Linked DNA regions of Homo sapiens. The protein of the gene in region 3 purifies or fractionates together with the protein of the main gene of each other region. This does not show direct contact. Each region holds a gene or a part of one and is shown on either strand. Other genes may lie near its edges.

Region 1 (5,104 bases), on a different chromosome or scaffold from region 3:
CAAAAAAAAAAAGAATAAAGAGTGGGAAAAATAAAAGTGAATAGGCAATAAAGATCACCTCTAGGGAAGAAGGGTGGAAAAAGCATGATGGGGAGTGGGTGGGGGAAGTGGCATCTTAACATTTTGTATTTTGGTATTTCTTTAAAGAAAATCTGGCTGGGTACAGTGGCTTATGCCTGTAATCCCAAAACTTTGGGAGGCCGAGGCAGGCAGATCACTTGAGGTCACGAGTTTGAGACCAGCCTGGCCAACATGGCGAAACGCCATCTCTGCCAAAAATACAAAATTAGCCAGGCGGTGGCAGGCTCCTGTAATTCCAGCTACTTGGGAAGCTGAGGTAGGAGAATCGCTTGAATCCAGAAGGTGGAGGTTGCAGTGAGCCAACATGGTGCCACTGCACTCCAGCCTGGGTGACAGGAGGGAGACTCTGCCTCAAAAAAAAAAAAAAAAGAAAAAGAAAAGAAAAGAAAATCTGAAACAAATATGGCAAAATGTTACTATTTGTTAAAGCTAGGTGGAGGGTACAAATGTGTTTATTATATTACTTTCTGTCTTTTTGGTATATTTTAAATATTTCAAAATTTAAACAATGTTACACAGAAAAGATCTGGCCATATGCATGGTAAGCCCATTTTAAAAGGCCTATCCTATAGAATAAAGACAAGTTTAAAAAGGAGATCTTTCTTTATAACAGCAAAAAAAAAATTGAAAACAGAATTAGTAAAATAAATTGTGGTATAACCATACAATGCAATGCTATGTAACCATAAATAAGTGATGGTTCAGAAGTCTGAATACTAGGCCAGGTGTGCTGGCTCATGCCTGTAACCTGAGTACTTTGGGAGGCCAAGGCAGGCAGATCACCGAAAGTCAGGAGATTGAGATCTGCCTAGTCAACATAGTGAAACCCCTTCTCAACTAAAAATACAAAAATTAGTCAGGCGTGGTGGTGTGCACCTGTAATCTCAGCTACTAAGGAGGATAAGGCAGGAGAGTCACTTGAGCCTGGGAGGCAAAGGTTGCAATGAGCCGAGATCATGACTGCACTCCAGCCTGGGTGAAGAGTGAGACTCCATCTCAAAAAAAAAAAAAAAAAAAAAAAGAAGAAGAAGAAGTCTGGATACTGCCTTAGAAAGATGCTGACAGCATATTAAGTGGAAAAAACAGGCTATAAAATTATAGGGTTAAAGGAACCTTCTCCTATATGCACAAACAGGCCAAAGTTCCATTAATGCACCTGCCATATTTTAGTCTCTTATCAACTACCATCCACGGAAAGAAGTTAACCACAAGAACTCTAATAAAAATAAAAAGCATAATAGATTAATTCTAGAGTTTCAAACAAGAAAGATATTGCTATAATATCTATACTGAACAGTTGTATTATAAGCCAAAAATAATTATTTCCCACCATTGGTGTCAATAATTCTCTTTCCAGATGAGACCTGTTCTATCTCACCATCTAGACAGAGAGCTACCAGAGCTAGCACAGTGGCATAAATTGTTGATCATACATACAAAAACAGCCAGATAAAATATAATAAATGATATACAAAATAAATTGAGTCAGATATTATAAACAATGCAACCCAAAGCTACACGCCATATTTATAAGAGGAAAGAGTGGCAGCAAAAAGTCACTGAAAGAATTTTGAGAGAAAATGAAACATTCTGTCCTACTATATTTATACCCTCTGATAAATTGGAAATTTACTTGGGTGTACTAAAACCTCTATTTTGTTAATTAAAACTTGTCAAAAGGTCTAAGTATCATAAAGATCCTATGCTATAAAAACTGCAATAGCATATAACAAAGAGTGGGGAGTTAGGACTCTTGGGGAAATATTTAAATATTATTCCTTTACTGTAAAAGTATTTATTGTGTTCTTTATACCTTGATGAAATATTTTTGAGACTATTAAGACCCAAAAGACATAAACTGCATTTATTGTGTAGAAATTCAGAATGGCTCAGGCTACACAATAGTAGTCAGATGTAAAGTGTACTAAATTTCATCTTCTAGAAGGGTTGATTTTGAATTCAATCATCATTTGAGAGAAGACATCCCAGCTCGCATAATTTCATCAACCAGGAGAATGTTGGTGGCAATCACTGTGCTAAGGAAAAAGATGAGAGGGTGAGTAAAGCCTACTAACCCACTCTTAGCTTTTTTCCCCAGCAATCTTTACCTATGTAGGGTACTTTGTTCTTTAATGATGTTAGTATGATGTTTTATGAGACAAGGCTATTATAAATACAAATACAAATGTCACCTTTTTTTTTTTTCCCAAGATGGAGTTTCACTCTTGTTGCCCAGGCTGAAGTGCAATGGCAAGACCTCAGCTTACTGCAACTTCTGCCTCCCAGGTTCAAGCAATTCTCCCGCCTCAGCCTCCCGAGTAGCTGGGATAACAGGCACCCACCAACACGCCTGGCTAATTTTTGTATTTTTAGTAGAGACAGGGTTTCACCATGTTTGCCAGGCTGGTCTCGAACTCCTGACCTTAGGTGATTCACCCGCCTCGGCCTCCCAAAGTGCTGGGATTACGGGTGTGAGCCACCGCACTGGCCCAAATGTCACCCTTTGTATTATAATTTAAACTCCTTTGCTGATAAAGTGCATTCCTGATTTATATTTCAGCAAAATTGAGCTTATTTTTACAATATCATTTGATTTTCTCCATCATGCATGTGCTATTATTTCAGTAAATTTCCCCTTTTCTTTCCCCCTCAAATAGTAAGGTTAATTTTTCTTAGAACTTAACACTGCTAGATCTAAAATATAAAAGGGACTATGGACTATAAAATGACAGAAGCTAGTTCTAATAACTGAATACCACACCTTTCATACACTTGACAATTTTTCCACTGTACAGGGACAAAAATAATAGAAAAAATTTCATCTTAATATTATCAATTATAACTCTACAGGTCTTTCACTTTATGTTCATATGAACTTACCAAGAGTGAAGAAGTTGTTTTTTTACACAATAATTATCCCAAACTCCTGCATCTGCTGCTACCATTGGCTCACCTGAAAAGTAAAAACAATTTTCATACCAAAATCTTAGTATTTGCTATTAATATTAATTGATATCTTCTAAAAATATTTAATACATTACCAAAACTACTTTTGTCAAGGTCATCAATGACCTCCATATTGTTAAATCCAATGGTTGATTCTCAGACCTCATCTACCAGTATTTAACACAGTTGATCACATTCTGCCGCCTACTCTATGTTATCTTCCAGGATACCACACTCTTCTGGTTTTCTTTCTTTTGCATTAGTGGCTCCTTTTCTGATTACTTTGCTGCTTCTTCCTCTTCCTCCCTGACCTCTTAACGTTGGAGTACCCAAAAGTTCAGTCCCAGCCTCTTTTCTCTCTACCCTTAATCCCTAGGTGATCTCATCCAGACTTTTAGATTTAAACCATACACATCTGATGACTCTCAAGGTTTTTTGGGTGTTTTTGTTTTTTGTTTTCTTTCTTTTTTTTTTTTTTTTTGGTGTTTTTTGTTTTTGTTTTTGAGACAGAGATCTTGCTCTGTCACTCAGGCTGGAGTGCAGTGGTGCCATCTCGGCTCCCTGCAACCTCCACCTCCTGGGTTCAAGCAATTCTCCTGACTCAGCCTCCCAAGTAGCTGGGATTATAGGGGCCTGCCACCATCCCCGGCTAATTTTTGCATTTTTAGTAGAGATGGGGTTTCACCATGTTGGCCAGGCTGGTCTTGAACCCTTGACCTTTAGTGATTCACCTACCTTGGCCTCCCAGAGTGCTGGGATTACAGGCGTGAGCCACTGCGCCTGGCCTGACTCTCAGGTTTTAATCTCCAACCCAGACCTCTTCCTTGAACTCCAGACCCATATATCCAACTTTTTTAATTAAAAGATTACAGATGCTTCAACTTTGACTCTGCCAAAACTGAATGCTGATGTCCTCTCACCCACAACCTGCTCCAGCCAGTATTCTCCACCACAGTTGATTGCAACTCCAACCTTCTACTTGTTCAGTTGACTTCTCTACAAAGTGGAGAGTGGCCAGAGTGATTCTCTTAAACATAATTAGGCCACATGCCTGGCCAACATGGTGAAACCCTGTCTCTACTAAAAATACAAAAATTAGCCGGGCGTGGCAGCAGACACCTATATTCCCAGCTACTCCGGAGGCTGAGGCAGGAGAATTGCTTGAACCTGGGAGGCAGAGGTTGCAGTGAGCCAAGATCGTGCCACTGCACTCCACAGCATGGGTGATAGAACGAGACTGTCTCATAAATTAATTAATTAGGCCATGTCACACCTCTGCTCAAAATTGCTCCCTGCTCCTCTAAAGTAAAAGCCAAAGTCCTGAGACTGGTCCAAATGCCCCTGCATGATCTGACCTTCTGTCACCTCTCTCACCTCCTTCCTCAGAAACATCAGACACTGGCTTTTCCACTGGCTGTTCTCTTTCCCTAGAACACTTAACCCCAGTTGCCTACATGGCTAATTTCCTCACTTCCTTCCACTTTTTTTCAACAGACATCTAGATGATGCCTACCCTGACCAACCCTTTAAGCTGTCATTCTCTCTCCACCCTCCTGTACTAGCATTCATGATCATTATTATAGCACTCTTTTTTCCATATAATTCATTACTTTTTCTAAAATGCTGAAGGAGTTTATTTATTAAAGTTATTATTTACTGCCTACCTTCTCCCACTACAACATAAGCTCCCAGGGGCAGATATTTTTGTCTGTTTTGTTCTGTGTGAAGCCCAAGAGGAAAACAAGCACTCAATAACTATTTCTTAAATGAATGAACATTTTTTAAGAAGCTCAAAAATAAACTAAAGGCATCCAAAATTTAAATATTAAAGTTACCCAAACCTCTACTCCTTTACCATAAGATCTGGGTAACTAAAGAATAACCTCTTTATTAAGCAGCTAATTTTCCTTCACTTTCTTACCTGTATTCAAATCTACGCCCACAAGTTGTTTTGACTCGACATGCTCAGCCTGAACTTTTACTAATGTTTCCTGTGGGTCATAACCAGCATTCTGAGCAAGAACCTTTAGGAATAAAAATAATAATATATATTATATATATATGCATAATACCTTCA
Region 2 (9,213 bases), on a different chromosome or scaffold from region 3:
AATAAAAATGACTAATTTTATATCATATCACATTGGTGATTCCTCACCAAACTCCCACAATCCACCTAGTAGTAAAAATAGGTCTCTAGACCTTTGGGAAACAAAGCAGAAAAATTACAGCCACCGCTCTGTTGAAGAAGTCCTACACTTTAGTGCATGCTTAAAACTTCACTCTGCCCAGCTTTTAATTCTTTGGCCAAGGCATGTGAGAAACAGCACCTAAAAACCAAGTATTTATGAGTATCCTTACATAGGAAGAAAAAATAAACAGGAAAAAGAAAGAAAAATATACTGACAAAGGCGACTGAGACAAAGGTATTGTTTAAGGTAGAAACTCCTCTTTTTTTTGAAGTTTCATTAGTTCTCCTTTCTTTTCTGTCATTCAGGGCACAGTAATAGGTATTTCACTATTTCACCTTACATTTTTATTTAATGTGTTAAACTAAAACTGAAAATTTTAAAAAATCATTTTAGATTTAATATTAAAGGTTTCCAAACTCTAACGAGTCACTGAGTGTCCTATATGAATTTTATTGGTTTACTTACTAAATAAATAGAATTAAGTTTGATAATCAGTTTTTTAAATGCCCATGACTTCCACATATTTTTGAGAATCCACTTAAATTTTCATATGACATTTTCATGAGTGTATTGGACAATAAAGCCCTAAATCTACAGTTCAAGAAAATTACACTTCAAATGACTAATTTATACTCCACAATTAATATAATTAACAACTTAGTAATAAACAGCTCCTTTTGTCATTTATTCTTTTCTCCAAAAGTTTCTATTTAAAAATCTATTGCATTCTTTAAATACATACAAAGAAATTTTAAACCTAACTCTTTAAATTCCAAATATCATTGCAGTTACAAAATCTTAGGTAGATTTGGGGATATACTATCTCAGTATTACTTTATTTCTAGTGACTCTAAGCTTAATGGTAAAGTTCTCTAAAATAACGTCTGCATACTGAAACTTCATGTCAGATTTTCATTGCTCTGAAGAGTTAAATTTCTTTTTTATCTCAAGAGAAACATTTCACTTCCTTTCTTAGTCTACCGTATATCTAAAAAACCCCATCTGTTAAGAACTGATTCAGCACACATTGCTACTGCTGCAGAGTCCAAACTGGTTATACATTCAAATCAGTTTCCAGGTTGTGAAAGCTCTACTGCCTCTTACCAGGTTAAAATGTATTAAGTAAGCATAGGAATACTTACTAAAATAGCCTAATATAATCTAACTTAAAAATGATATTGGTTAGATCAAAACTGCAACTAAAAATGTGTTCCTTTAAATTACAGAAATACAGTTACCTGCTAACATACTAACAGTTTGAGATTTATCTTCTTTTAAAAAGAAATGGCAAGTACTGACCTCTTATTTGCAGCTAGTTAAAATTAAAACTCAAGAAAACTGTATTTCTAGTAGTGTTCTGAAAAGAACTTGGTTATATCAACTTAGTGACATTCCCTCAAACTTACACTGACTTTTCATGATGATTTATTTGAAAGGTACAAAAAAGTAAAAAGAGGTGTTTTGTTTTAAACAGCAATGAATATAACAAAGACAGATAATCTCCTTTGACCTGACACACTAGCAAAAGGAAAAAAACAGCTTCAACTTTTCTGTGCATTTACGAGGTTCATAAACCGTAGACATTATCTAATGCATGTCTCAGGACACCACTGATGTAGCTGCAGCTTTCTCTCAGTTTTCCAATAGAGTAAGTAAAAATAATTGCTTAGCTGAAAAATGACTGCATGGGTGTTACAAAGTACCCCTGTAAGCATATTGTTATATTCCTGTGACCCCACACCAAATACAATACTCAACTGATTGCTCTCGATTTATGTCTTGCCTCCCAAAGCCCAACCTTACAGTATGTCAAAGACTAGATCTATTGCAGAGAAAACTGTTTAAAAAGCTTGGCTGCATTTAAAAACAAAACAAAACAAAACAAAACCTCCATTTACAAAGCACTAAATATGAACTACTGTTAATTATCCTCAATGTATGATTCTCCTCTCCTTCTTTCCATTTCTTTCCCTGACATCTTAAACGCTTCTGAGCCTCTCTGTAGATAGCGCAAAACATTAAGTCATACACACTTCTGCAGTAACTCTTTCTTACCATGAAAGGAACCAAAACCTAGGGCTGCGTTTAAAACCTTTCCTTTAGTCTTTACCCACATGCCACACTACTGAAAGTAACCACAGAAATCAACCTGTGTGATTTGGTGTCCTCACACACCTTGTGTGCACAAAAAATGACTAAGAGATCAGTATATTCAGGGCAATATTACAAAGAAGGGACGGCTGCTTCTGAGATGGAGGGGGATGGATACAGACACAACACTCTCCATCATGGCCTTGGAATATTTAAAGACAGATGCAAAACTGCATCATTTTCTGTCTCCTTCGAAAACATCACACCCCAGCTGCTCAAGTTGGAAGCTAATGCGCTTCTCACATTTCAGCAGCACGGGGGAATTTAGGCTCCAGGGGCAAGGCTGTCATCCTCGGAGAGCGACACCAAGGACAATTAAGTGTGAGAAAAAGAACCCCAGAGAACAGGAGGCCTCCTCACCTCCTAACTAAACTCTAAAGTCGACCCAAAACCTTCACCGCGGGTACTGGGTTACTCGCGGTCCTAAAAAGTGAGAAGAAGCGGTGTTAAGTTGGGCACTGCGCTCAGGTGGCAGGAGAGGACCAGAAAGAGGAGAGGAGGGAGGTGGCGTGGCTCTAGCAGCGCGCAGGCAGGTCACCCGCTGGGCAATACCGGCTGAACGCTCTGCGCTCCCAGGGACGCGCGGCGCGTGTGACCCTGGGGGTGAAGGGTGGGAGGGAAAGGCGCTGGGGACGGTGTATGTGGGGACTGGGGAAGCAGATTGAGAGCACGCCTTTTCCTTACCAGGTTGAGCACCGTCTCCACGATGTCCCTGTTGCTGACCTCTCCGACCTGTATGAGTCCAATCAACACTGCGAATTTCATCCGGATGTTGCGGATCGGCACCGAAGGGTTAATCATCCCCGCGGGGAGCATCACCGAGCCGGAGCCGGACGCCCCCCTTAGCTCCCCCATCCCGCTGCCCCCGGTGCCGCCACCACCGCTGCCCCCGCCGCCTCCGCCAGCGGCCCCGACGGCAATGAGCCCCACGGGCTGAGGCTCGAGCCCCGGGCCCGGGCCCGGCTTCTCGCTAGCCATTGGCCCCCCTCCTGAGGAGAAGGGAAGAGCAGCGGCGCTGCCGCCGCCGGTACCGTTATACCTGCCTCGGCCCCCGCCCCCCGGCCGTCGCCTCGGAGCCCCAGCATCCACCAGCGCCGCGGCGCCGGGCCCGCTCCCCGCCTGCGCCTCAGCCCGGCCCGCTCCGGCGCTCTCCCCCGCGGAGGCGGCGGGGGATCCGCAGGCTTATTCTCGGCGGTGGCGGTACCGCTAACCGCTGCCGGGCAAGCGGCTGTGCCCGCCCAGCAGGTGTGCCGCTGCCGCTGCCGCTGCCGCCGCCGCTGCCTCTGCTCTCTCCCTCTCCCGGTCTGTCCGGCCCGGCCCGCCCCCCGCGGAGATGCTGCAGCCGCTCCGAGAAGCCCGAGGACGCGAGCAGCTGGCCACGACGCTGGCCGGTGCTGAAGCTCAGGCTGTGGCCGATGCTATTGACGCTGCTGCCGCCGCTGCTACGGCCACCACTGTTGTTGTGAAGCCCCGACGCCGCCGCTCACTCCGCCATGTTGCCGCCCCCTGCCTGCGGTAGCAGCCACTGCGCCTGCGCACAGCCTCCGGGGGGGCGGAGCCCTCGGTGCACCCCCTCTTTTGCCCTGCCCTCCTTCTCTTCCCACCCACCCACCCCGACACCCCTCGTCCCTCCCCCAACCACCCCGAACGGATAGACAGGTGAGCAGGTGCATGGGGACTGCTGCCAGACACTGGGGCAAGCTGGCAGAGGCGGGGCGGGTAGTGGCTTCCTTGTGGTTTTTCCCTTGAGGGCGGATTCTCCCTTTGGGGAAGGACACAGTGTGCATGTCTTGCCTTCGCTGCCACCTCCTCCTTCTCTCAATATCCTCTTGCTGGGAGGAGGTTCCTCATCTCAGTTGTTGCATCCAGCTGCTGCTACTGCCAGTGCCACGTGCCTTGTAAGGTAGGGGAGTGGCAGACGACCTCTTTCTGCCCCTCCTCGCCCTTCCTCGCAGTCCTGTCCGCCTGCCCTCCCTAGAATTTCCCAAAGAAAAAGTGGCTGGCAAAGCAGAAACAAACGCGCGGGGGGGCGGGGGGGCGATCCTGCATTGTCGGGGGAAGAATACAGACGGAGTGTAATGGTGCTTTTTCTACAGCCATGAAAGAGGCTGACACCTGCACACTCAGGCACGACTTAAAATAGAACTTGTCAAACAGTGATCCTCTCTGGATCAAGCTCGGAACAACAAACAGCTCTTGAACTCGCCTCCCAGCCTAAAAAGACTGCAGTGTGTGACACTGTGGGGTAGTTTGGTGGGAACGACAAATCCCACACTTTCAAAATCCTGACAATCCTCAGGTATGATGCCAATTATTAATGTTTCCTTTTTTCACAGGCACGTACAATTCAGAGGACTTTCGAAATTATCTAAAAACATGGGTGATTCTCACTGCCAGCCTTGTCTGTGAGAAAAGTACATATCTATGTCTGCACAGATACGAGACAAAAAATAAACCTTTAATTTTTAAAAATTAAAATGTACACAGTAATCTTGCTGTTAGTATTGAATTAAAACTAAATAGGCATGACTGTTCCTTGAAAGGAATGATATAATTTTCTTTAATATTTCATGAGGTCTTCCCTTTTCAATAAAGATTATTGCAAGTCACCAGAAATATTAGGTATCTTGAGGTATATTCAGATCGTTTTAATTGTCCTCTCAAATGAAAAAGGTCAATATACAAATCCACCATAATCAGTTTTGTTATTATTCATATTTAATTGGACCTGCCAGTCAAGTTAACTCCCAGGATATGGGAACACGGTAAAATTCTAAGTACCACAGGTTATAAAAAAGTTCCTCAAAACCAGTACTTAGGATGAATTCTTGGTTGCATGTCTGTTTGTTTAAACTTGCACCAAAGTGATTGAATTGTTAAAGTAGTTAAGCAAACACTTCTGAAAGCAGTGGTAACTAGCATGTCCATTTAAATTAAATGGCAATTGAATTATAAAATGCTAGAATGCTTGAAACTGTACGGGAAATTTACAAAACATACAAGTCATAATAGTATGACTTGAGATATACTATATAATTGAAAAATCCTGTAACGTTTATATCCTTCTACTACATTTTTGTCTGTCCCAAGTGAGTATCATCTGCTTTTAAGAGTACTGTTTCATTTGCAAATTTAAAATGATATCTTTGTAAAATACATAAATCTAGACTGAAAGGTTGTCACACTAAGTTTTTTTACCCACTGTGCATATATCTATATGGCAGCAGGTTCTACCTTTTGCTATTTTTAGACTTCTTGCATGAGTACTTTGAGAGACAGTGACAACCTGAACTTTCTATTTCCTTTCTGAATGAATAGCTTAACATCATTTTTAACATTTCCATTTTGATTTTTCTTGTATTTTTTCTTAAGTAGTATGTATATGCAGTTGGTTGTATTTTTCTGCTCATTTTTCTTAGTGAAGATAGTGAGTGGGTAAAGATAATATCACCATTTCTAAGTAGGAAAACTCCACTTCTTTTGCCTACTTAATTCAATTTCAGAGATATTTAAAAGAGCTTACCAATTAAAAATCTTTCTCCAGTAGACAATCAGCTCCTCGCAGGCGCTATGATACTGTGGAAAGTGCATGATTCTTTGAGTCATAGTTACAACTTACTACCTTTGCAGTCTACTCAAGCTATTTGAGTTTCAGTCTCCTGGTTCCTTAAGTAGGAATGATAATATGTGTTTCATAGGGAAGTAAGAATTCCATAAAATAATTTCAGCTGAGCAGCTAGCATATAGTCAATGTGTCTTTGTGTCCTTAGTATACAGGCATGTGTGTTGCATGACCTATAAACACATGTAATACCAATTATAACCACATACAAGTCTGCATAATTGCACAGTTATATGTCTTCCATACCATCCCAAAAGCATAAAGTTCAGAAAAGTCAACAGGTCTATTTCTTTTTGGCCTACAAAACCTTTTCCCGGAAAATGTGCAAATAACTTTACATTTACATTAACAATATTTTGAAAGAAAAGCTACATAATAATAGAAGATACCCAATATGTATATTTTTAAATCTCCAGATTAAAAAATATATTTTATGTGGTGAATATTAATTTTGTATGCATTTTTGCATACCCATACTTCCTAAGGACAATCATTCAAAGATAAGAAACCTGTGAATCTGAGTTTCAGGAAGCAATATTGCAGAGAGGTTGAGAAGTCATGCCCCAGATTCAATGGAAGCTGGATTTAGATTCTAGTTCCACCACCACTTATATGTGTGATGTTGGGAAAATGACTTTAGCTTCAAAGCTTCAGTTTACTCAACCCAAAGTAAGGATGATAATACTACTTTATAGGATTAAAGGAGCTAATACATTTAACGTACTTAATGTAGTAGTAAGTGGCAATCAATAATGTTTCCCTTCATTGGCTGCCGGAAAATACCCACAGTTATTTTGTGTCATTATTTTTGGGTTTTTTTTTTTTTTGCACCTACCTTGCCTGACATAATTTACATTGAATAAATATGTTCAAAAATGAATGGATGGAAACAGCCGTTCTCCACACTATTCCCGTTTCCTTCACCTGTTCTTTAAAGAACACATTTCTTGCTTTCCTCTAAACTTTATCTGAACAGAATACTCCAAATTCAATGTGGGTTTAGACCTGTATAAAACAGAGGGAAATTCTTACCTCACCCTCAACCTTTAGCAATATAGCTCCTGTTAATGTTGCCCCAAATCAAATTAGATCTGTTTGGTTTGTTTTGGTTTTGGATTTTTTTCTTAACATGACACTAATGATTCGTGTAATGTAGTAATGATTCACATTTGGCACGTAGTAGGTTCTCAAATAATTTTGGTTCCATTCTCCTCTCATATTGAAATTATTATCACCATTAAATTAGTTACAGATCTGCCCATTCTTCCTGGTAATAGGTCTCGCATTCATCCCACTTTTTTCATCCTCACTGCAGCCACCCTGATTCAGATCCCAGTCACTTCATACCTGGTCTCCTCTTTTCCACACTCACTCTTCTCCAGTCCATCCTTACATGGGTAATCTTCGTAAAGGTCCATCTTGATGGACAGATTAGACCATCAGGATTAATTAGGATTAATAAAGAGTTTTACTTTATTAATCACAATAGCTTCTGCATGAAATAATTATCGACCTGAAAAACTAAGGCGTTTTCTTTTGTTATTACTGTTTTTTTAGCAGCAGCATATCTACAATTTGTAGCTTTACATGTAGATTTTGAGATATAAGTACAAAATTGAACATATCAATTTAAATTTAAATTTTATTTTAAGGCCAGGCATGGTGGTCCATGCTTGTAATCCCAACACTTCGGGAGGCCAAGGCAGGTGGGTCACTTGAGGTCAGGTGTTGAAGATCAGCCTGGAAAACACGGTGAAACCCCATCTCTACTAAAAATACAAAAACTAGCCAGGTGTGGTGGTGGCCACCTGTAATTCCAGCTACTCAGGAGGCTGAGGCAGGAGGATCAGTTGAACCCGGGAAGCAGAAGTTGCAGTGAGCAGAGATCATGCCACTGCACTCTAGCCTGGGCAAGAAACCAAGACTCTGTTTCAAAACAAAAAAAAAAGATTATTTAATACAAATTTTCTATTTAATTATCCATTAAATTTCATCTGCTAGGAATTTCTTAATCCTGATTATATCATGCAAATAATTTATTGTCTTATTAGTCTATGTGTAAATTTGGGAGCATTCCTTCTATACCTCCATTCAAATGTTGATTGAACAGGATGAAAACAGCTCAGCAGTCACCAGTATCACTCTGCTTGAATCAATTCACGTTTTTCAAACTGTGGGTCCCATCCTAATAGGGAGTCATGAAATTGATTTAGTGGGTTGCAACCAACAGGGTTTTTTTTAAATGAAATGAATAGAAACACACATAATGAGAAATTTCAAAATCTATTTTGTAAGGGTAAGTACCATTTTATAAGATCTGCTTTAATTACACACACGTACATAAAAATACATATGTATGTTTACTAGGTAATGATGTAATATGTATTTCTTACTGCAAATTGTAGTCAAAAAGTTTGAAAACTGATTTAAGTTGTTTATAAGCACCTGTTTAGCATACTCCTTCAATAATAAATTAGCTACCATAGTGTGCTGATAACTAGCACACATATTCCTCTGGCTTTACCAAAGGATACCGTAAGGGACCTTGACAACTGTCTAGCTGCAGTCTGGATACTCTCTGTTTCTGTATCTGAGCAAAATTAAATGAAAATATATTGATGTGAAGTATTATTACTTGCTTTGGAGATATTAAGCTACTTGCTATGGATTTTCGAGAATTAACCTCACCCTGCCTTTAGCACTTCAATCCTCTGGCACTCCTAGTTCTCTATGACTCCTCAAAGACCATTGAGAGTTGTTCAGTGATCTAGTTTTCAGATTGTTTTAGGATCAGTGGATGCAATTTGTCCTGCCTTGGGGACTTGAATTCATTTAGCCTCTCTAGGTGTCTATTTAGAATTTCTTCATCAAACTTAAATGTCAGTTTCTTCCAACTACCACTACTTCTTTTACCTTTTTTGCTCCACTAATTTTCCTCTTAAAGAGGGAACACAAACACAAAATAGAAATTCTATATTTGTATCCTAAGTTGACCCAATTTGGGAATGGTTAAAATGTTGAAGCTTACCAACCAATACATATTTGTATGCCAAAAATTAAACTAATTGAAATGAGTGATTCTGAATCTTTCATTTAGGAAAAGATTGTGTTGAGACATGGAAAATTATCAGCAAGTAATTTTAAAATGTCAAATGGTACTGAAATAATAAGTATTCTGGAATCATAAATGAACTAGATATCATACAAGCAGCCTAATGCAAACATGTACCCGTAAACATCACATAAATATGCATACAAATGCACCATGCACACATACTTATTCACCATTAAATTGTCATACCTCTGCCCATTCTTCGTGGGAGTGGGTCTAGCATTCATCTCATTTTTTTCATTCTCAC
Region 3 (9,902 bases):
TACTTTAAACATGTAAGTAACTGTGTTATGTATTTTCCATATTACTAACAATCCAGTCTTCTAACTTCATAGTTCTGCCTCTCAGCCTTGGTAATTGATAGAATAGATTGGCAGGTATGAGTCTGGCTCCAACTTTTTGCAATCTTGGACAAACTGAAAATGAGGATAATGCCACCTGCCCTGCTAAACTTACACAATTTGAAACTATGAAAGAAATATATGAAAGTATTTGTAAACTATAAATCATCATACAAATATACTCATCCTTTTTTTTTTTTGAGACAGGATCTCCCTCTATCACCCAGGCTGGAATGCAATGGCATGATCACAGTTCACTGCAGCCTTGATCCCTTGTTCAAGGGATCCTCCCACCTTAACCCTCTGAGTAGCTGAGACTACAGGCATATGACACTACGTCTGGCTAATATTTTATACAGACAGGATCTCACTATGTTGCCTAGGCTGGTGTTGAACTCCTGGGTTCAACTGATTCTCTAGCCTTGGCCCCTAAAAATGCTGGGATTACAGGTGTGAGCCACTACACGTGGTCTACTCATTACTTTTTTAAAAACCACATTTTAATATAAGTATTCCCTATTCAAATATTATTATTATGTATAAAACAGGATGAAAGTCCTCAAGCTACTTAATCTAAAGTAGATACCACGGATCTAAATATAAATAGAAAACCAGTTGGCAGCTATACCTCATATATACATTGATCCAAATGATTTTATTTCGGTTAAGTCAAAGGGGTTATTTTTAATACTGTTTGGCTTGCTTTTGGTCAGATGGAAATTTGTAAAAGGAATTTCTGAAAGATTTAAAAGATAAGGCATAGCTAACTGGTGTGGGTGGCATATCAAAGTATAACACCTATGAGAAAAAGTAGATATGGGACAAAAGATTAGAATAATGAACATATTGAAGTATACGAGAAGTTCTTTATGAAAGAAAGAAAAACTCAATGAGAATGTAATTCATTTCTCAAGTCCAGAAGTCAATCAGGTCAAAACAATATCTCAGAGCATAAGAATATCCCATCAGAATATGCCTTTTATTATGGCTTGGCATTAACATCCAACTACTCTGACAGAACAAAATCAGATCTATATTTACAAAAACTTACCAAAAGAGACATTGAATCACTTTAGTTCACACAGAAAGTGACAAAAATCCATCTATTCCAAAGAAGGCTTTTGTTTTATCTTCCTTTCAAGATGCAGATATATCCTACTATAAAAAACAAAAGCAAAATAATTTAGATTCACATAAAAGTTCCTTAAAGAACCAGTTGCCTTAAACCCATCCAATATTTAGGCAGCTATTCCCTGATACCCAATATTTAGGCAGCTACTCCTTGACACAAGGAGACATTCCTGAAAAGTATCTTTAAAGAGCATTTATTTTTTACTGAACATTATTTGTGATCTGACATCACAACCAAGAAGCAGAGTGAAAACAAAAAGAAGTCCTGAATATTTCCAAAGCCTCAATATGTTTGCATTTCTCCTTCCCTATCTTTTCTATACTGTTTTTTGTTTGTTTTTTAAAGAACGCTGAGCAAATTTGAAAGCAATGTAGAAAACCAATTTTTGGCCCACTTTTGATATAAACAGTGTCACTTACAATAAACCCCAAGAATTTTCAATGGTTCCACATATTACAACTAAACTTTGAGACTTTCCAAAGCCCTTTCTTATTGGATTAATTACGTATTAAATCATTTGGGGTCCCTGACCAGCAAATATGGGAAAGAATCAGAATAACAGACTAGGAAATTAATTCAAGGAGATACAAAAGCACCATCCACGGTTTCCAGACCTTTACTAATAGAAAGGGTGGCAATCTTGTAAGTTTGTGGGTTCAGAGCATCCCTTTACATCTAACCAACATCATCTCTTTCATCTAAATTGTGCTTCATTATTTCAACTCCCCAAATTTGATGAACCCATCTACAAATATGTGAGCAGGATGAGAAAGGGAAGATTTTGTAAACCATAAAAACCATAAAGCAATATCCAATTTTATTGCTAAAGAAAGAGGTGAATTTATTCAGGATGTTCACTATGAACCAAAGGTAGAGATTGGGAGGAAGACGGACCTGAAAGGCTGTGATCATTTAGCCACCTACCATTCATTACCGTCAATTTAAAGCACTGGAGTTTGCTGTGCTGCAAAAGGAGGAAAGCAATGCCTGCCCTGCCAACCTTCCAGGGTGAATGAAATCAAATGAGTTACATCTCAAAGTGCCCCTAATTAGCAAACACTGTATCAGCTTGAACTATGCTTTGAAAGGTACACTCAAATGTACTGATGGCAGTACAAAACTATAAGGTTTATTTGGAAAGCAGGTTGTCAAATGTTTCAATAACCATGAAAATATTCATACTTTTTGACCCAGTAAAATTCCCCGGAGTGATCTATTCTAAGGAGATATCCAAGTAAATGAAGAAACTACACATCATAGTCAATACACTGTTAATCTGTTAACAGCCAAGTAATCATTACACAAGTGTTTAATGAGTGGTTACCATGGGTCAGGCACTGTGGACACCCGCTGGTAATCAGGGCAGACAAGACCCTGGCCACTTGTAGCTGACCTTCCCACAAGCAGAAGGGTTATGGATGTCATGATTAACCAAATTTTCTGGTTATCATGATTTTGTATCCTGCTTTTTTCACTCAATGTCAGCAAGTTGTTACTGATTTTGTCTTAATAATGTGAAACTCCATTACGTTGTCTATTTTTTTCTCTTTTTCAGAAAAGCTCAGAAGAAACAGACACAATCTGGTAAGAATTGTTAGTAATAAAAGGGTTGTCCCTATGGGGTGGTTTAATCTCAGAGATTTTTGCCTTAGATACACCAGACTATTAAGAGATAATTTTACAAGACATTTTGAGGTCAAGGCAGCAGCTGCACCCAGCAAAGGGGTGGGGGTGGGGGATTTGCTGTTATTATAATTTTCTCCGGCATGCTCTTTCACGAGATATGAATATAAACCCTTTCTTAAAAAAAAGTCATATTTAAGAGACTTATATTTCGTATTCACAAGTACATCAGTGCAGTCCCTTACACTTGTATCCAAAACGCTAATTACGATAAAGCTTTATAAGTAATTTCAGTTTGTTCCATAATAGAATGGTTCATGTGAAGACTTTGATCTGAAAGATTAACACTTTCTGTAGAAACCAAAGGGCGCATCTTCTAGAACACGGGTTTTGAGTTAATTTAGGCATTCAACAGAGGCCACTGTTACAGGGAATGCAAAAATGACCCGATGTAACTCTTTGTTGAGCTTTAAAATTACTGTAATTTTCAAAGTGATCTTGGGAACCCATAAAATCTTAACAAAGATCATAGCGACGCACAGTTCAGGAGAATTTTCCAAGCTTAGTGACTCATGCGTTCAACAAATCTTTACTGAGCGCCTACTGGGTGCCAGGCACCGTGCTAAGCAGGCGCCGTGTTACACATCCGTATCAAGTTTTGGGGAAAAGGTACTTGACAAAGACCCAGCAGGGAAAAACACAGCGTTGAATTGAAAAACCGAAGACAAAACGACACTCGAGTATTTAATTTTGTAAAAGGTTCCTTCCTAGTCCTGCTATGGGGGACTTTGCAGCGAACTTGCAGAAGGCGGCAGATAGAGCTGGGGTCTGAGGGTGTCTTCGATATGGCAACTCCCCAAGCCCGAGAGCGCGGCCAAAGGTGAGGGGTGCGGGGAGAGGGCGCCCGGGCGGCCTGGGCCCCGCGCACCTGGCACGGCCGGCACGGCCAACCCGGCAGGCACCACTGGGCGGGCTGCGAACCCGCGGCCCGGGCCCCGCTGAGCCCGAGCTGCACTGGCGCAGTGGCTGCTCGCCACCTCGGGCCGCATTCTTGCCACGGCTCCCGCCAGCCGCCGGTGCTCGGGCTGGAGGTGGGCTAGCGCGTTCTGGCCTCTGGCTTCCCGGGCGTGCGCGGACCAAGGCTCACTCCCTCACACGTCCCCCACCGGCCCCGACACCTTCCCTTCCCGGGCCTGCCTCCCGTCTTTACCCTAGCGGCGACCACGGCCAGCGACTCTCTTCAGGCTGCCAGCGGTGCGGACAGGGGCGGGCGCCAGAGCCCTGCTCGCGGAGGGGCGAGGCGAGCGCTCTAGGCCCGCTCCCGGCGCGGGGCGCGGGAGGGCGGCGAGGCCGCGACCGGGGCCGTGGGCTTGGAACTCTGCACCAGTCCCAGGCTACCCGCTGGGAACGCATTCGCCCCACCCGCGCCGGGGTCGCGGCCCCGCCTCCCTCCCCGGGGCTGGGCAGCGAGAAGGCGGGGCCTTCGAGCTTGAGGCGGGGCGGGCAGGAAACTACAATTCCCAGCAGGTCTTGCGCTGGGGCCGTGGAGGCCGCTGGGAGAGTGGCTCTCCTTTGGCTTCCCCAATTGTGTGGGGGCTGCCATTGACCCGGTGTCGCCGCAGAACCGAGGTCGCCGAGTGATGATGTTGTGAAGTCGCCCGCCTGTCCCTGCCACGCCCGGGCGGTTGCTGGCAGTGGGAGCAGCGGCAGCAGCTTCGGCTGCTGCTTTCAGGCTGCCGCTGCATTAGGGGCTTCCTGAGGAAGCGCGGGCGGACGACAGAGGATGCCGAACCACTCCAGTGAGTAAGCTGTCCGCGCAGAACCCGAACTTGCCCTTGACAACTTCCCCGGAAAGCGGAGGGACCTCCTCGTCCCAAGGTCCTCCGGTACCCGGAGGTCACGCGCGGACGTCGGAGCCGGAGGCTGGGTGCTGGAGGGCTGGGTCCGGGTCCCGCGGTGAGGCGTGGGTTGTTTCCTAAGTGTGGGTGCAAAGTAATGGGCGCTAGGCGCTGGCGTCGGTATTCAGCCCAGCTGCACATCTGAGGCTTGGCAGCTTCTCATAGCGCCTTATCCTCTGCCATACAGCATCCATCTGGAGCCCTGTCTTTTAGGATGAGTGGCTTTAGGGTCGGGCATTAAACCTTAAGCTTCAGTCGCCATCTGTGATGTAAGTGGGAGGAGAGGGTATTGGAAAGAGCTCTTTCTGGGTCAAATAGAGTTGGGCTTTTCTTGCAATTGATTTTGAGCCAGATGCCACATATCTTGAAAAAGAAAAACGGCTGACTTTAGTTTGAAGCGTAAATAATAGATATTCGCACATGTCCTTTTTAGTAGCAGCCCAAAAATTGAATTTCAACTTAAAAAAAAATCTGCGTCATAATAATAGGGATGTTACTTGCTCTTGCTCATGCACCTTTTGCTTAGACCTGCTGTTTCTACGTCAGAAAAAAAAAAAAAAAAGGTAACTTCACAGGATATTCATCAAGTTGATGGAATGGACCATAGGAACAAAAGGAACACTTTCAGTTCTTGGTCTCCGTAAATCTTCCCGACCTTTAGATCTTTGCTGTTGACTTGGAAGTCTGAGGTACAGTAGTCTCCAAATAGCAGGTTAATGGTGGTGACATGACACTTAAAAACAAATTGTGAAGGACATTTGGAGGTGAGAAAGGTCAGGGATGAAGACATTTTATCATCCTAGCAGTTATTCCAACTTTCTTTTCTTTTTTTTTTTTAAGACAGAGTCTCGCTCTGTCGCCAGGCTGGAGTGCAGTGGGGTGATCTCGGCTCACTGCAACCTCCGCCTCCCGGATTCAAGCGATTCTCCTGCCTCAGCCTGCAGAGTAGCTGGGACTACAGGCGCGCACCACCACGCCCAGCTAATTTTTGTGTTTTTAGTAGAGATGGGGTTTCACCATGTTGGCCAGGATGGTCTCGATCTCTTGACCTCATGATCCACCCGCTTTGGCCTCCCAAAGTGCTGGGATTACAGACGTGAGCCGCCACACCCAGCTCCAGTTTTCTATTTTTAAAATTAAGTAATGTCCAGCAAGTCTCAGACATTTAGCAAGCACATACCATGTGAAAGACAGTGTTTTGTTATCTTACACACTTATTCATATGATGGAAGAGGTTTGTTAGAAAGAACCAACATTTGGCCGGGCGCTGTGGCTCACTCCTGTAATCCCAGCACTTTGGGAGGCCAAGGAGGACAGATCTCCTGAGGTGGAGAGTTCAAGAACAGCCTGACCAACATGGAGAAACCCGTCTCTACTGAAAGGAAATACACCAGCCTGGCCAATATGGTGAAACCCCGTCTCTACTAAAAATACAGAAATTAGCCGGGCGTGGTGGCACGCGCCTGTAGTCCCAGCTACTCGGAGGCTAAGGCAGAAGAATTGCTTGAACCCGGAGGCAGAGGTTGCAGTGAGCCAAGATTGCACCCCTGCACTCCAGCCTGGGCAACAGCGAGACTCCATCTCAAAAAAAAAAAAAAATTAGCCAGGCATGGTGGCACATGCCTGCAGTCCCAGCTACTGAGGAGGCTGAGGCAGGAGAATCGCTTGAACCCAGGAGGCGGAGGTTGCGGTGAGCCAAGATCGAGCCATTGCACTCCAGTCTGGGCAACAAGAGTGAAACTCAGTCTCAAAAAAAAAAAAAAAAAAAAAGAACCAACATTTTAGTATTTGCAATCTGCCAGGCACCCCAGGTGGGAGCTCTTCATACTTTAGCTCACTTAATCACTTTAACAAACCTATCACACTAATCTGAGGCTCAAAGACTTGCTTATGTAACAAGGGGAGATTTAAATCTAGATCTGCCTTGCTTCCAAGTCACAGATCAGGTAACTAATACGTACTTCAGAAATTATAGACTTTAAAGGTTGAGTGGTTAAAGAGGATTGTCTAGTGTTATTGTCTAAGACTGGTTCCAACACACACCTTGGACATCTGGAATAAGTCCTGAACCCCTGCTTTAGTACTTTTGAACAAACTGATTCTCTCTGCCTACAATTCCCATTTCTTACTGAACTGCTCAGTAAGACCCGAAAAGCCCATTCCAAATCCATCTCACTTATGTAAGAAATTATAAGACTGGACTTTTATCAAAAGGTTCTTTTCAGTTTACAGGTTTTGTGAGTCTGCAAATAAAAATATGACCCTGCTGGGTGTGGTGACTCACACCTGTAATCTCAGCACTTTGAGAGCCCGAGGCAGGAGGATGACTTGAGACCAGCCTGTTCAACATAGCAAAACCCCATGTCTACCAAAAATAAAAAATAGCTGGGTGTGGTTGTTTGTGCCTGTAGTGCCAGCTGAGATCAAAGGATCCCTTGAGCGATGATGGCACCACTGCACTCCAGCTTGAGTGACAGAGTGAGACGCCATCTCTAAAAAAAATTAAAATACGAGCAGAGAAGTGTTATTCTCCACTGAAACTTTCTTTGCTTTAGTGCCCCAAATATGTTAAATACCAGTATAAGGAATGAGACAGATAATGTCTTATTTCATGTTTATTGTGAGCTCTCATTATATTATCTGTACCAGTTTTGAACCTCTTTAGTTACCATCCTGTTTAGTTGGTAAGAAATAGGAGGCAAAAAGGTAATAGTCACATTTAAATGACTTAGTAATTAAAAGAACTAAATTATTCATAGTTGAGTCATTATCTGTTCAGATCTGCAGTGTTCTTATAATAATAGGAAACATTTATGTAATACTATGTGTTAGATAATGTTTTACCTATATTAACTTATCCTCACAATAGCACTGAGGTGTTTTTATAGATAGGCAACTAAAGCAAAGAGAAGATAGTAAATATACCAAAGGTCATGTAGCTACTACATGGTAGTACTGAGTGTCAGAGAAGACAAGATCAAAATCTGTAATCTAACATTTATTGAGAACCTACTGTGTACCAGCCCCACAGCTGGGTGCTTTCATTATGAGTTAGTCATTTGTCTTTACAACTACCTTATTTAAAATGGAAGTTCAGCATGTAATGACTTGCTCAGAGTCACAGATAAGTAAACTGTGGAATCAGGATTTGAACCCATGCTTGTCGTACTTCAAGGTTCCTGTTCTTTCTTTCATTTTCCTTCAGTGATCAAATCTTTATTAAACACCTTCTGTGTGCCACACACTGTGCCAATGCTAGGAATTTAGTCTTTGCTCTTAAGGAATGTAGTTTGAAGAAGGAAAGAGACAATTAACATAGTGTGTTGAGCAATGGGATCACAGCTTGCCGAGGTACTTTGGGAGCACAGAGAAAGAACACTGAAGTTACTCTGGAGTGGGAAGGCTTGGACCAGTCTTGGGAAAACAAATGGGAATTAGCCTGGGCAGAGAAAAGGGGAAGGGGTTGTTATGGGCTGAATTGTGTCCTCCCAAAATTATATTGAAGCCCTAACAGCCGTAACCTCAGAATGTGACTGTATTTGGAGACAGGGCTTTGGGGTGATTAAGTTCAGATGAAGCCGTTAGGGTGGGTTCTAATCCAGTCTGACAGTTTTCCTTATAAGAAGGAAATTTGAGCACAAAAAGAGACACAGGAGTTGCACACACAAAGGAAAGACCATGTGAGGATTCATCAAGAAGACCAAGGAGAGAGGCCTCAGGAGAAACCAACCTGCCAACACCTTGATTTTGGACTTCCAGACTCCAGTATTGTGAAAAAATAAATTTCTGTTGTTGAAGCCACCCAGTCTGTGGTAGTTTTTTATGGAACCCCTAGCAAACTAACAAATAGGTGTTCTAGGCAAAAGGAATGACATACAAAAAGGCTTTAAGCTGTGGTTAGGTGATAGAAGTTGACATACAAAAAGCCTTTAAGCTGTGGTTAGGTGATTGAGGTTTTTTGGTGAAGAGATAAATGTTGAGAGAAATGAAACTGGAGACTAGGCTGGGGCTGGATTAGGAAGATTTTACATGAGATGCCAAGGGGCTTAAACTTTATCCTAAGGAAGATGGGATGGAGGTGGTTTGTAGCAGTGGAAAAGCATTAGATTTGCATTTTAGAAAGACTAAGACTTGTAAAGGATAAATGAAAGGTAATAAGACCGGAGACAAGGTAACCAAGGTAGCTAGTGCCACAGGATGCTGAACTAACAGTTTTCCCAGAATATTGAAATGTCTAACTAAAACAGAGCCACTGTTAATATAACATTATAAAGGGCACAGCTAACCCTTAGGGTGTACATAAGAAGATAGGGAAAGAATTTGTATATAGCTGTTTGTACCCAGAGGCTGTCTTTATTTTGACATTTTGCTTTTCCTTGTATAGATCATAAAGCTTTATACAACTATCAGAATATTCAGATTTTTCCACTCTAAAAAGTGATCTTATGTATTTAATAGACACTTTTATGGTGCTGACACAGATTTAAGCCAAATTCTTTGACAACCTTTTGAAATACCTACTATTCATTTTAAACGTAAACATACTGAAGCACAGAGAGATTAAGTAGCTTGTCCAAGATCACATAGCTAACAGGCAGCAGAGTTAAGATTCAAACTCAGTCTGTCTTTAGAGTCTGTGTTCTTGGCTTTACACTGTGCTGTTGCTATATGATATTTATCTAGCTCTTTATTTGTGAAAAGAGGGCAGAGTAATACAAAAATAAGTATGTTTGCTGTAAGAGGCATGCAGTTTATCAGAGGAGATAAGGAACAGCTCTAAGGTTTTAAAAACTGTTTTAGAGAAGAGCAGAAAGTGTTCGGAGGCAATACCTCCTTCAAGTTGGGGTTTCTGGGAAGGCCTGTTGGGAAAAGTGGCATTGAGCTGGTGTGGGAAGCATGGCTAGAATTTGGATATGTAGAATGGGGAGAGGACATTAAAATTAGAAGAAATAGCATGGACAGAGTTACAGGACTGAGAATTTCCTGGTGTGTCTAGGAAGCTAGTAAATGCAGTTCTTTCTTTTGGCTGGAATATGTTGTGTGGTTGGGGAAGATGGAGAAGCTAGTTTGCAGGGAGGGGAAATGTCTGGGGAAGAGAATTCTCGGGGAGTGAGGGGCAAGAGAAGTTGTAAGGTTTCAAGCCTGAGTAATTGAGGCATATGCCAGATGTA

What was found.
Region 1: the proteins of STRADB (region 3) and CCT6B purify together in Homo sapiens (affinity purification with mass spectrometry; 3 studies listed by BioGRID and IntAct, with this or other methods). This does not show direct contact.
Region 2: the proteins of STRADB (region 3) and NBEA purify together in Homo sapiens (affinity purification with mass spectrometry; 2 studies listed by BioGRID and IntAct, with this or other methods). This does not show direct contact.

The regions. Positions count from the first base shown.
Region 1 is NC_000017.11:34,926,001-34,931,104, forward strand, and holds the end of CCT6B (T-complex protein 1 subunit zeta-2), read right to left. Parts: intron 5,052-5,104; coding exon 4,949-5,051; intron 3,035-4,948; coding exon 2,962-3,034; intron 2,118-2,961; coding exon 2,048-2,117; 3' UTR 1,861-2,047; downstream 1-1,860. UniProt on the Homo sapiens protein: Component of the chaperonin-containing T-complex (TRiC), a molecular chaperone complex that assists the folding of proteins upon ATP hydrolysis.
Region 2 is NC_000013.11:34,936,818-34,946,030, reverse strand, and holds the start of NBEA (neurobeachin), read right to left. Parts: upstream 3,762-9,213; 5' UTR 3,211-3,761; coding exon 2,917-3,210; intron 1-2,916. UniProt on the Homo sapiens protein: Binds to type II regulatory subunits of protein kinase A and anchors/targets them to the membrane. May anchor the kinase to cytoskeletal and/or organelle-associated proteins.
Region 3 is NC_000002.12:201,446,080-201,455,981, reverse strand, and holds the start of STRADB (STE20-related kinase adapter protein beta), read right to left. Parts: upstream 4,243-9,902; 5' UTR 4,044-4,242; intron 1,237-4,043; 5' UTR 1,142-1,236; coding exon 1,130-1,141; intron 1-1,129. UniProt on the Homo sapiens protein: Pseudokinase which, in complex with CAB39/MO25 (CAB39/MO25alpha or CAB39L/MO25beta), binds to and activates STK11/LKB1.